Regions from separate parts of the Homo sapiens genome. Here region 2 is linked to region 1. Evidence: fine-mapped expression QTL. Tissue or cell type: cerebellum. Region 1 holds a variant in brackets; the other region holds the start of a gene. All regions are shown on one strand. Distances are between the middles of the regions. Region 1 holds the start of LOC107985573 (a long non-coding RNA gene). Region 2 holds the start of ADA2 (adenosine deaminase 2).

Region 1 (5,260 bases):
CAGACGCGAGCCATGCCCAGCTATTAATTCATCTTATTGATGTCGAAACTAAAGCCTGGAAAGGTCAAAGAGCTTGATGAAGGTCAAATAGGTAGTAAGGGGTGGCTGGACCCAGACCAGGGCTCCTAAGTTCGTCGCTTTCCTCACCGCGCTGGGCTCTCTGAGCGTCCTAATAGCCACGCCCACCTCAAATGGCGATCCCAGAGAGCATCTGGCTTCAATTTTCCTTTTTCCGGAGGGGAGATGGATTCCCTGGAATGGAACTGGGCTCTGGTAGGGGAGAACTTCCTGTTGGGCAAATCCTGACAACTGTCTTGGTGTGGGAGTGCATAGGGAACTCCGACCCTCGCAGAACCCTGGGATCTTCGTGGGTGGAGGGGAAGAGGATAGAGGAGGGGAGGGAGGAGACGCTGAGACAGAGGCTTTCATCTTGAGCCTGGTGGGGAGGCATGTGGGAGAAGTTGCTGAGCGGTTGGATCGGAGGGAGGAAGAGAAGGGCCAGAGCACTGGCTTCCTGTTCCATCTTCCCCCTTGTTCTGCAGGTGGCCATTTTCTCCTTCCAGAGCCGGAGGTGGAGAGACTTGGGGGCCTGCCCAGCTCCAGTCCTCTGTCCTCACTCTGCCCGTCTCCGCCCGTCCCCCAGCCAACCTTTGGAGAAGGTGCTGGGCTGCTAGGATTTGGGATTCTGGTGGAGGGGGAGGGGGAGGGGATGTGCCCATTTGTTCGGGTCTGACCCTGGAACAAAGGCTTTTGCCACGGAGAGTCTAGGTCTTAATGCCCCCCATTAGCCAGAGTTGGGGGGCCACCAACACATTAACAACTAAAAACAGTCTTCACTAGAATCCTTTTGCTGAGCCCCCTCGCCTCCCCCTGCCTGGTCGCAGGCTAATTCCGGCCTGGGCTGCTGTGGACGGACTATCCTGGCCGCTGAGCCTCCCATTGTGTTCCTAATGCTCAGTAACAAAGGCTGCTCGCCGGTAGCAACGGTCGCTAGGCGGGTCTTATCTCCTGGGCTCCGGCCCCTTCCCCCACGGCAGAGTCTGAGGCCCAGACTGGGTCCCCTGAGTCTTTAGCATGGGGCTCTTCCAAGACCCCGGAGGGTTATCCACAGGGGATGGCCCTGCTGGCACTTATGGAGGGGAGAGCTTATGGGAGACACGTCGGTGGCAGAGAACCTGTGACAGTCGTTCCCAGACGTTTTCTAAGACGTTGTCGTTCATACAGTAAGCATTTCTAGTGCTCCCTGTACCCGCGCTCCCCAGCCCCCATGCTTTTGCCTGGATTCTTAGCAGACCTTTCATTCAAAATTCCATTTGGCTCCTTGCTGAATGAAGCGAACCCTGTGTCATGTTGCTGGTGTCGCTTTACGAGAACACGCACCCTCTTAACTGCTCCCTTTTTGACAGGACTCATCCGACTATGCTGTCATTGTGCTATTTACTTGTCTGTCGATTGGAACAGTGGCAGATCTTCAGCCCAGCTGTATATCGCACCCTAGCACCACCTGGGAGATTACAAACACCAAGCTTCTACCCCACAGATTCTGATTTGGTTGCTCTGGGGTGGGACACAGGCATTTTTCCTCTCCTTGAGTGATGCCAATGTGCCGCCAGGGCTGAGATGTCACTCTAGTGACTGTCACCTTTCTACAGGAGGGGGCAGGGGCCTCCTGATGACAGGAGACAACTCAGGGCAAGCAAAATTCTGAAATGTGGTCGGCCTCCAGCCCCACTAATTATGCAGGGGTACTGAGTTTCTCAATTTTTTTGTTTTTTTTTTTTTTGAGACGGAGTTTCGTTCTTGTTGCCCAGACTGGAGTGCAATGGTGCAATCTTGGCTCACCGCAACCTCCGCCTCCCGGGTTCAAGCGATTCTCCTGCCTCAGCCTCCCGAGTAGCTGGGAATACAGGCATGTGCCACCACACCCGGCTAATTTTCTATTTTTAGTAGAGACGGGGTTTCTCCATGTTGGTCAGGCTGGTCTCGAATTCGTGACCTCAGGTGATCCGCCCGCCTTGGCCTCCCAAAGTGCTAGGATTATAGGCGTGAGCCACCGTGCTCAGCCTTCTCAAACTTTTAAAGCCTCAAAATCCTTATCTGTAAAATGAGACCTACCTCATAGTGTAGTTTTGAGGGTTAAATGAGATTATGGCATAAAGCCCCCTGCATATGCCTGGCATGTAGTAGAAGCTCAACACTTCTTAAGTGAATGATACTCTGGTAGTGAAAGCTGAGTGAAACTGCCAGTACTGGCCAGGTGCAGTGGCTCATGCCTGTAGTCCCAGCACTTTGGGAGATGGTGGCAGGTGAATCCCTTGAGCTCAGGAGTTCGAGACCAGCCTAGGCAACATGGCAAAACCCTTGTCTCTACAAAACAGGACAAAACAAAATAATTAGCCAGGTATGGTGGTATGCACCTGTGGTCCCAGTTACTCAAGAGGCTGAGGTGGGAGGATCACCTGAGCCTGGAAATTCAAGGCTGTTCAAGATCATGCCACTGCACTGCAGCCTGGGCC[G/A]CAGAGTGAGACCCTGTCTCAGACAAAAAAAAAAAAGAAAAAAAAGAAAGAAAGAAAAAAAGAAATTGCGAGTCCTTGTTTCTGTTCTGATACAAACCAGTTGTATGACCTTTACAGCACTCTGCTCCCAAATTTCCCCATGAACCAATCTGTCGTCCAGGCTGGAGTGCAGTGGTGCGATCTTGGCTCACTGCAACCTCTGCCTCCTGGGTTCAAGTGATTCTCCTGCCTCAGCCTCCCGAGTAGTTGGGATTACAGGTGCCCATCACCATGCCCGGCTAATTTTTGTATTTTTAGTAGAGACGGGGTTTCGCCATGTTGGCCAGGCTGCTCTTGAACTCCTGACCTCAGGTGATTCGCCTGCCTCGGCCTCCTAAAGTGCTGGGATTACAGGCATAAGCCACCATGCCAGGCCTCAGAGATCTTCTTTTAAGCAGAGTTGTCATTTGTTAATATTTTTTAAAGGTTATTTCTTTGGTCTCCCTTCTATTCTGCTGGCATGACTCCACCTACCACTCCGCCAACAACTGTCTATTTGCCCTTGCTGCCTGGGCCTTAGTACTTTTAAAACTCCTGTGGACAGCACTCTCCTTGAATTAATATTTATTTATGGAGCTCCTGCTCTGGTGCCATAGGAGAGGAGGTGGGGAGAGTAAAACTGCAAGGACTCTACCCTGGAGGAGCCTCCAATCTAGCTGGGGGGTGTGGGCAGGAGACTCAGTAATGACAGGGTGGTCAAGGTCAGGACAGAACCCTATTCTTCCCTGCTGTGAACCAGCTGGATGAGTCCAAGACAACTGCAGGTAACAATTGTGGGTTGGGTTAACACAGTGGTTCTCCAACTTTCTGGTCCCAGAACCTCTTTATATTCTTAAAAATTTTTGTTAATTTCAAACGCCTTTTATTTATGTGGATTATATCTATTGATATATCCTGTATTAGATGTTAAAATTAAGAAATTTTCCTTTTTTTTTTTTTTTTTGGGATGGAGTTTCACTTTTGTTGCCTAGGCTGGAGTACAATGGCACACAATCTTGGCTCACTGCAACCTCCGCTTCCTGGGTTCAAGTGATTCTCCTGCATCAGCCTCCCGAGTAGCTGGGATTACAGCAAATTTTTGTATTTTTAGTAGAGAAGGGGTTTCACCATGTTGGCCAGGCTGGTCAACTGACATCAGGTGATCCACTCGCCTTGGCCCCCCAAAGTGCTGGGATTACAGGTGTGAGCTATTGCACCCAGCCAAAATTAAGAAATTTTCTTGCCGGGCGCAGTGGCTCATGCCTGTAATCCCAGCGCTTTGGGAGGCTGAGGCGAGCAGATCATGAGGTCAGGAGTTCAAGACCAGCCTGACCAGCATGGCGAAACCCCGTCTCTACCAGAAATACAAAAAAATAGCCAGGCGTGGTGGCATGTGCCTGTAATCCCAGCTACTCGGGAGTCGTGCTTGAACCCAGGAGGTGGAGGTTAAAGTGAGCCGAGATCGCACCACTGCACTCCAGCCTGGGTGACAGAGCGAGACTCCGTCTCAAAAAAAAAAAAAAAAAGGAAAGAAATTATTCTAAATACAAACACATAATCCATGATTGGCATTATCGGTCAGAATGATATGACACATGATGCAGCTTCAGGAAAATTCTACTGTACATCCATGAGAGAATAAGAGTGAAACAGACAGTGAACCAAGATTGCACCACCACACTCCAGCCTGGACGACACGGCAAGACTGTTGCAAAATAAAAGTTTAAAAAAATTTTTTTGTTTTGTTTTGTTTTTTTTTGAGACGGAGTCTTGCTCTGTCGCCCAGGCTGGAGTGCAGTGGCGCGATCTCAGCTCACTGCAACCTCCAACTCCCGGGTTCAAGCGATTCTCCTGCCTCAGCCTCCCCAGTAGCTGGGATTACAGGCGCCCACCACCACGCCCGGCTAATTGTTGTATTTTTAGTAGAGATGAGGTTTCACCATGTTGGCCAGGATAGTCTCCAACTCCTGACCTCAGGTGATTTGCCCGAGGTGATCTGCCTCCGCCTCCCAAAGTGCTGGGATTACAGGCATGAGCCATCACACCCGGCCTAAGAATTTGCTATGTGCACAGATAGATGCAGGCCTTCCTTGAAAAGACGTGAAGCACCAAAGAAGTTAGAGTGAGGGCTTATATTCCATTTTAACAACTGGTAATAAATTGTGAAGAAGTGACAAGATGAAGGAAAAGGGGTTTGGGCTTCTAGGGACAGTAAATTGTGGGCAGGCAAACATATGGGGGAAACTAATGGAAGATAAGGGCAATTTTATAAGGCTGGTTTGTGCAGACCCATCTTGGTAACAACTTTCTGTTTCCGGTGGTAAGGGTGATTCTCCTGGTACGGGAGAGGGGAGGGCGACACCTTCACAAAGGGAAATTTAGGCAGATGAGGTGGGCAAAGAGCTCTTTCTTCATTTGCTGCTTCTTAATTGCCTTCAGCTAAAAATATTTCTTCTGCTAAAGTGGCCTATTGGGTGACATATTCTGACCCTCTTCAGTAAATAATAATAATAATAGACAATACTAGATCCTGAATGAACAGTACCTAAGGTTCTTCCTTCTGGCACGCTCTGGCAGCCTTAAAGTTCAGTAGCCCCTGAGCATGGCTGTGCCAGGTCAGGCAGTCAGGGAAACTGCCCGAGCAGAGTGAGTGGCCTGGCCAGGTGCAGGTTGTGGGGGGCTGTGTGACGTGCCAGGCTTCATGGGGGCAGCAGAGGAAACAGAAG
Region 2 (5,489 bases), 22 kb before region 1:
CAAGATCTGAGTCTCCACTCCCCAGAACCCGGCAGGTTCTGCCTGACAAGGACCTGCAGTCCTCTGCCAGCTGCCACACCCTTGCCAAGGTGTGACTTGGAGTCCTGGAGCCACCTTCGGAGATGTGAAAATTAGCTCCTACTTTTAGCTAAAGCGTTTGGAAAGAAAAGCTTGATCTTTAGCTTTGACCTGGTCTTTAAAAAAACCCTTCAAGGGGAACATCACACACCAGGGCCTGTCGGGGGGGTCGGGGCTGGGGGAGGGATAGCATTAGGAGAAATACCTAATGTAAATGATGTGTTGATGGGTGCAGCAAACCAACATGGCACAGGTATACCTATGTATCAAACCTGCACATTGTGCACATGTACCCTAGAACTTAAAGTATAAAAAAAACCCACAAAAAACCCTTCACATGATTTACTTTCAGAATTGGTGGTTTCCCTTTGTGCGGCGCTGGAATCAATCTTGTTTCTCCTTATTACTTGCGGTGCATTCTGCTTCCTCTAACTTTCAAAAAATTAGTGTTAAACTCTTTTTTTTTTTTTTGAGACAAAATCTCACTCTGTCATCCAGACTGGAGTGCAATGGTGCAATCTCAGCTCACTGCAACCTCCACCTCCAGGGTTCAAGCAATTCTCCTGCCTCAGCCTCCCAAGTAGCTGGGATTACAGGTGCGCACCACCACACCTAATTTTTGTATTTTAGTAGGGGCTGGTCTCGAACCCCTTCCATTGTGATCCACCTGCCTCGGCCTCCCAAAGTGCTGGGATTACAGGCATGCACCACTGAGCCCAGCCTAGTCTTGAACTCTTGATGAGGGAATCCCTGACCCCTCTGTGTTTTCACTTTGGGATTTCTTCCTGTTTATTAAATGAATGACCTTGGTACTTTTTGGAGAAAATGACAAAAAGGAGCATCAAGGCTCCAGATGTATGGGAGCTGCAGAACTGAAACTGCCGTGGGCTTTTGGGGGTAGATTTGGGGTCTTGGGGGTAGATTTGAGTGGGACTGGGGAGGAGTGGGGTGCAATCGAGTCTTTAGACCATGCATGTGACATGGAGGTCCCTGGTGTAGCCTCCCATGTCTGCATTTCTAATTGGCTTGGATGAGGCATCCCAATAGTTACTTCTAAGAATAGTCATGGCTAATATTTATCAAGAGCTTTCTATGTGGCAGGTACTTTGCATGTGTTTTTCCTTTAATTCTGACAATGGACCCTCTGTGGTGGGTGCTTTTATTATCCACATTTTCAGATGAGGAAACTGAAGTATAGAGAGTTGAAACAACTTGGTCGAGGCCCCACTGCTACAGTGCTAAGGCCAGCTACAAAGCGAGGTCTGACTCTGACCGTCCTGGGTACAGGAGCCTTGTCTGCTCCACTTGTCCCTTGGAGCGTTGTTCTTGCTGGTCCTCTTCACACCCCAGCTCTTGTCTCCTACCTCCTGCCCCCTCTACTGTCCTGTCCCCGCATCCCTGATTTCCCCCCTAAAACATATATTTTATTATAGCTACTTTTTACTCTCTGTCTAATGGGTTGCCCCACAGTCCACAATCACATTTTGAGGAAGGAGAACTTCCCAGAGTTCATGAACAGATTTTGGAGTGCCTCTTTGCGGTGCTTGTTTCCAAAACCAACATGCTGTGGACCTTTCAAAGACACAGTACACACAAACACACACACACCCTCCCTCCAACACAAATAAACCCACATGCGGCCGGGCATGGTGGCTCACGCCTGTAATTCCAGCACTTTGGGAGGCCGAGGTGGGCGGATCACCTGAGGTCAGGAGTTCGAGAGCAGCCTGACCAACATGGTGAAACCCCATTTCTACTAAAAATACAAAAAATCAGTGGGGCATGGTGGCGCACGCCTGCAATCCCAGCTACTCGGGAGGCTGAGGCAGGAGAACTGCTTGAACCCGGGAGGCGGAGGCTGCAGTGAGCTGAGATTGCGCCATTGCACTCCAGCTTGGGCAACAAGAGTGAAACTCTGTCTACAAAAAAAAAAAAAAAAAAAAAAAAACAAACCCCACATGCACATAAACCGAAACACACACGAACACACAAACACCCACATGAACATGCGCACAAGCCCCCCACATCAAACTCAGATGCACACAGCAAGCATGCATGTAAGCCACACACTTGCCACTCTGGCTGCCTCAGCACTGCAGAGCCCCTCTCCCCGGCCTCTAGTTGGATCCCTGGTGCACACTGGAGGGAAATAAAACCTACCCCAACAGGAAGTGAAACAGTTGGTGAGCTTTTCCGGTGCTCTGCACAGATGCTGGGGCGCTGAGCAAACAGCCCTCAGTTTCTGGAGCTGTTCCGAGGTAACTGGGGTCCTTTGGGAGCTGTGGGATGATGAGGTTCAGGAGGTAGCTGGGAAGTCCGGAGCTTGGGCTTGATCCACCTGCACCTCTCCCTGTCTCCATCTGAGCTGGGTCTGAGACTCTCAGTGGAGGAGTAACAGGCTTTCTCCCAACAGGCTTTTGAAAATGGGCCCAAGGGCATTTACTCAGGACCACAGATGCATGTGGCCTACTCCACTGTCACCAGGCTGGAGTGTGGTGGCACGATCTCGGCTCTCTGCAACTTCTGCCTCTCGAGTTCAAGCCATTCTTGTGCCTCAGCCTCCCTAATAGCTGTGATTACAGGCACCCACCACCACGCCCGGCTAATTTTTGTATTTTTAGTAGAGACGGGGTTTCACCGTGTTGGCCAGGCTGGTCTTGAACGACTGACGTCAGGTGATCTGCCTGCCTCGGCCTTCCAAAGGGCTGGGATCACAGGCAGAGCCACCACACCCAGCCTCCTTTCTTCTTAGTCTGGAAGCAAACTACTTTATGAAGTTTTCATGCATCCTCTTTTAAAAGTAAAAGGAAAATCTTGTGGAGGAGAGAAGATGAAGTAGATATAGCAATAAATTGTGAATAAGGATTGTTTTTACTAGTATTCAACCAGGCAGGTCTTGACCACCATTAGATAAACTTCTGTCTGGCAGCCTGGAAAAGTTCACAGTTGCTGGGACACAAATGCTTTTGGGGTCCTTCTTGGAGAGGATGGAGTTGAAGATTTGGGAGCTTGATGGCCTTTGTTATGTGTCACCAGGGAGACAGGGACAAGGGGCGGGGCTGTTGATGGAGAATGTGGCATGGGGTAGGTGGGATGGTGACATAGAAGTCACCGTGCTCCTGCCCTAGAGATTTTAGTAGCAGGCAAACACCGTGGTCAAAAAAGAGAGTCAAGGACTTAATGAAGTTAAAGGGGTTCTGCTGACGTCCAGCACTCTGATTTTGGGGGTACAGCTTCTGCCATAACTGCATATTGCTGATACTAGTTCCTTCTTAAAATTTTCTTTGCTATCTGATGTACTACAGAATAACTGAGCTGGGAAGAATCTTGGATATTAAAATGATTTAATGAGTAGCAAACTTTCCATTTTTGTCATATCCTTGCACCTCTATTTACTTAATATTTTTCTTTAACTTAAAAATTTTTCAACAAAAACAATAATAGTTACGATATCATGGGTTTGATGTGCTAATACATGTTTTAAAATTACCTATCTGTCAACATAACCCCTATCCATTTGTGAGCCACCTAAGATTGTATTTATGCCACTGATGATATTCATGCTGCACTTGGAAAACCACTGATCTTGTCCAAGTTACCTTTTTTGTAGGTGAGGACACTGAGATCTGGAGACGTTAGTGATTTGCCCAAGGTTGCACAGTTAGAATGATACTAATTTGAGGCTGTTCCTAAGGTCTCCTAATTTACAGTCTTGACATGTTCCAGTATGCTGTATCATACTTTCAAGTGTAGAGAAACAATCGTTTTATTTTCATTTTAAAAATTTTATTTACGTATTTATTTTTGAGACAGAGTCTTGCTCTGTCACCCAGGCTGGAGTGCAGTGGTGCAATCTAGGCTCACTGAAACCTCCGCCTCCCAGGTTCAAGAACTTCTCATGCCTCAGCCTCATGAATAGCTGGGACTACAGGTTCAATACACCACGCCTGGCTAATTTTTGTATTTTGGTTTTGCTATGTTGCCCAGGCTGGTATCGAACTCCTGGGCACCAGTGATCTGCCCACCTCAGCCTCCCAAAGTGCTGGGATTATAGGCATGAGCCACTGCCCCTTCTTAAATGTAATTCAAATAGATAACCCAGGTAAAGGAGCAGCATAGAGCCTTGTGTGAGGAGATGCTGAATACATTTCCTTCCTTCAGTCCCTGCTCGTTGCCACCCTGAACTGGCTGCTCTCTGCAAGTTTTGATAATCCTTTCTAATGCTAATGCTCTGAAATACCAAGATGCTGTACCTTGGTGTGGCCACAGAATGATTGACTGTGCTGTGCAAGGTACTCAATCTAAAGACTGTCAGTTCTGGGGCAATTTCTTGTATTCCTTATTGGCTTATTTCCTTCACCTGTTTTTTTTTTCTTTTTCCTTCTGAAATGTCTGTTATTTGGGTGTTGGATTTCTTCAACCAATAATCATCTCATTTTCTTTTCTCCTATTTTGCTTTACTTTTAAAAATATTTTCTTTAACTTCATTTTTAATATTGCTAGTAAATTTTTAAACATTCGGCTTTGCTGTTTTTAATTTCTGAAAGTTCTTTCTAATTCTCATTTTTTTAATCACCTCCTGTTCCTGTTTTACACACACAATGTTTTATGTCTTTAAGGATGTTAATTACAGTTCTTTCAGGTTTTTCTTTTATTTCCTGTGTTGCTTTGTTTCCTCTCAGTTCCTTATCTCTGTGTGTTTTGTTTTGGTTTCTTTCTCAGTTTGAAGCATGTCTTATGATCTTGTGCTCTGGTTATATTTGTTATTTATTTATTTATTTTAACTTTAATCCATTTTATTTGAGTCTCTCTCTCTATATATATGTGTGTGTGTGTGTGTGTTTTTTTTTTTTTTGAGGTGGAGTCTTGCTCTGTTGCCGGGCTGGAGTGCAGTGGCACGAACTCGGCTCACTGCAACCTCTGCCCTCTGGGTTCAAGCAAGTTTCCTGCCTCAGCCTCCCAAGTAGCTGGGATTACAGGCACACGCCACATGGCTAGTTTTTGTATTTTTAGTAGAGACAGGGTTTTGCCATGTTGGCCAGGCTGGTCTTGAACTCCTGACCTTGTGATCCACCTGCCTCGGCCTCCCTAAGTGCTGGGATTACAGGCATGAGCCACCATGCCCGGTCTTAGTTACTCTGAAATATACATAATATTATTGCTAAGTATAGTCACCCTAGTCTACTATGAAACATTAGAACTTATTTCTTCTATCTAACTGTAGGTTTTTTTTTTTCCTGGGAGTGGGGCAGATAGGGTTTCACTCTGTCACCCAGGCAGGAGTGCAATGGCACCATCATGGCTCACTGCAGCCTTGACCTCCCAGACTCAAGTGATCCTCCCACCTCAGCCTGCTGAGTAGCTGGGAGTACAGGTGTGTACCACTACACATGGATAATTTTTATTATTAT

What was found. PIP is the estimated chance that this variant, and not a neighbour inherited with it, causes the effect.
Region 2: it holds the start of ADA2, and the variant in region 1 is fine-mapped to the expression of ADA2 in cerebellum (GTEx, PIP above 0.99). The same link has a PIP of 0.9 or more in cerebellar hemisphere.

What each region holds. Positions count from the first base shown.
Region 1 is chr22:17,194,562-17,199,821 of GRCh38, reverse strand. The region is part of intron 4 of ADA2 (adenosine deaminase 2); the gene reads left to right. LOC107985573 (a long non-coding RNA gene) reads left to right here and starts at 1,033. Exons shown (of 2, transcript XR_001755419.2): 1 at 1,033-1,223; 2 at 1,407-1,761. RefSeq lists enhancers at 1-427, 428-931, 932-1,436, 3,987-4,502. The variant G/A (reference allele first, on the strand shown) is at 2,517.
Region 2 is chr22:17,216,203-17,221,691 of GRCh38, reverse strand. ADA2 (adenosine deaminase 2) reads left to right here and starts at 2,257. Exons shown (of 10, transcript NM_001282225.2): 1 at 2,257-2,336. RefSeq lists enhancers at 2,470-2,599, 2,610-2,679, 2,520-2,880.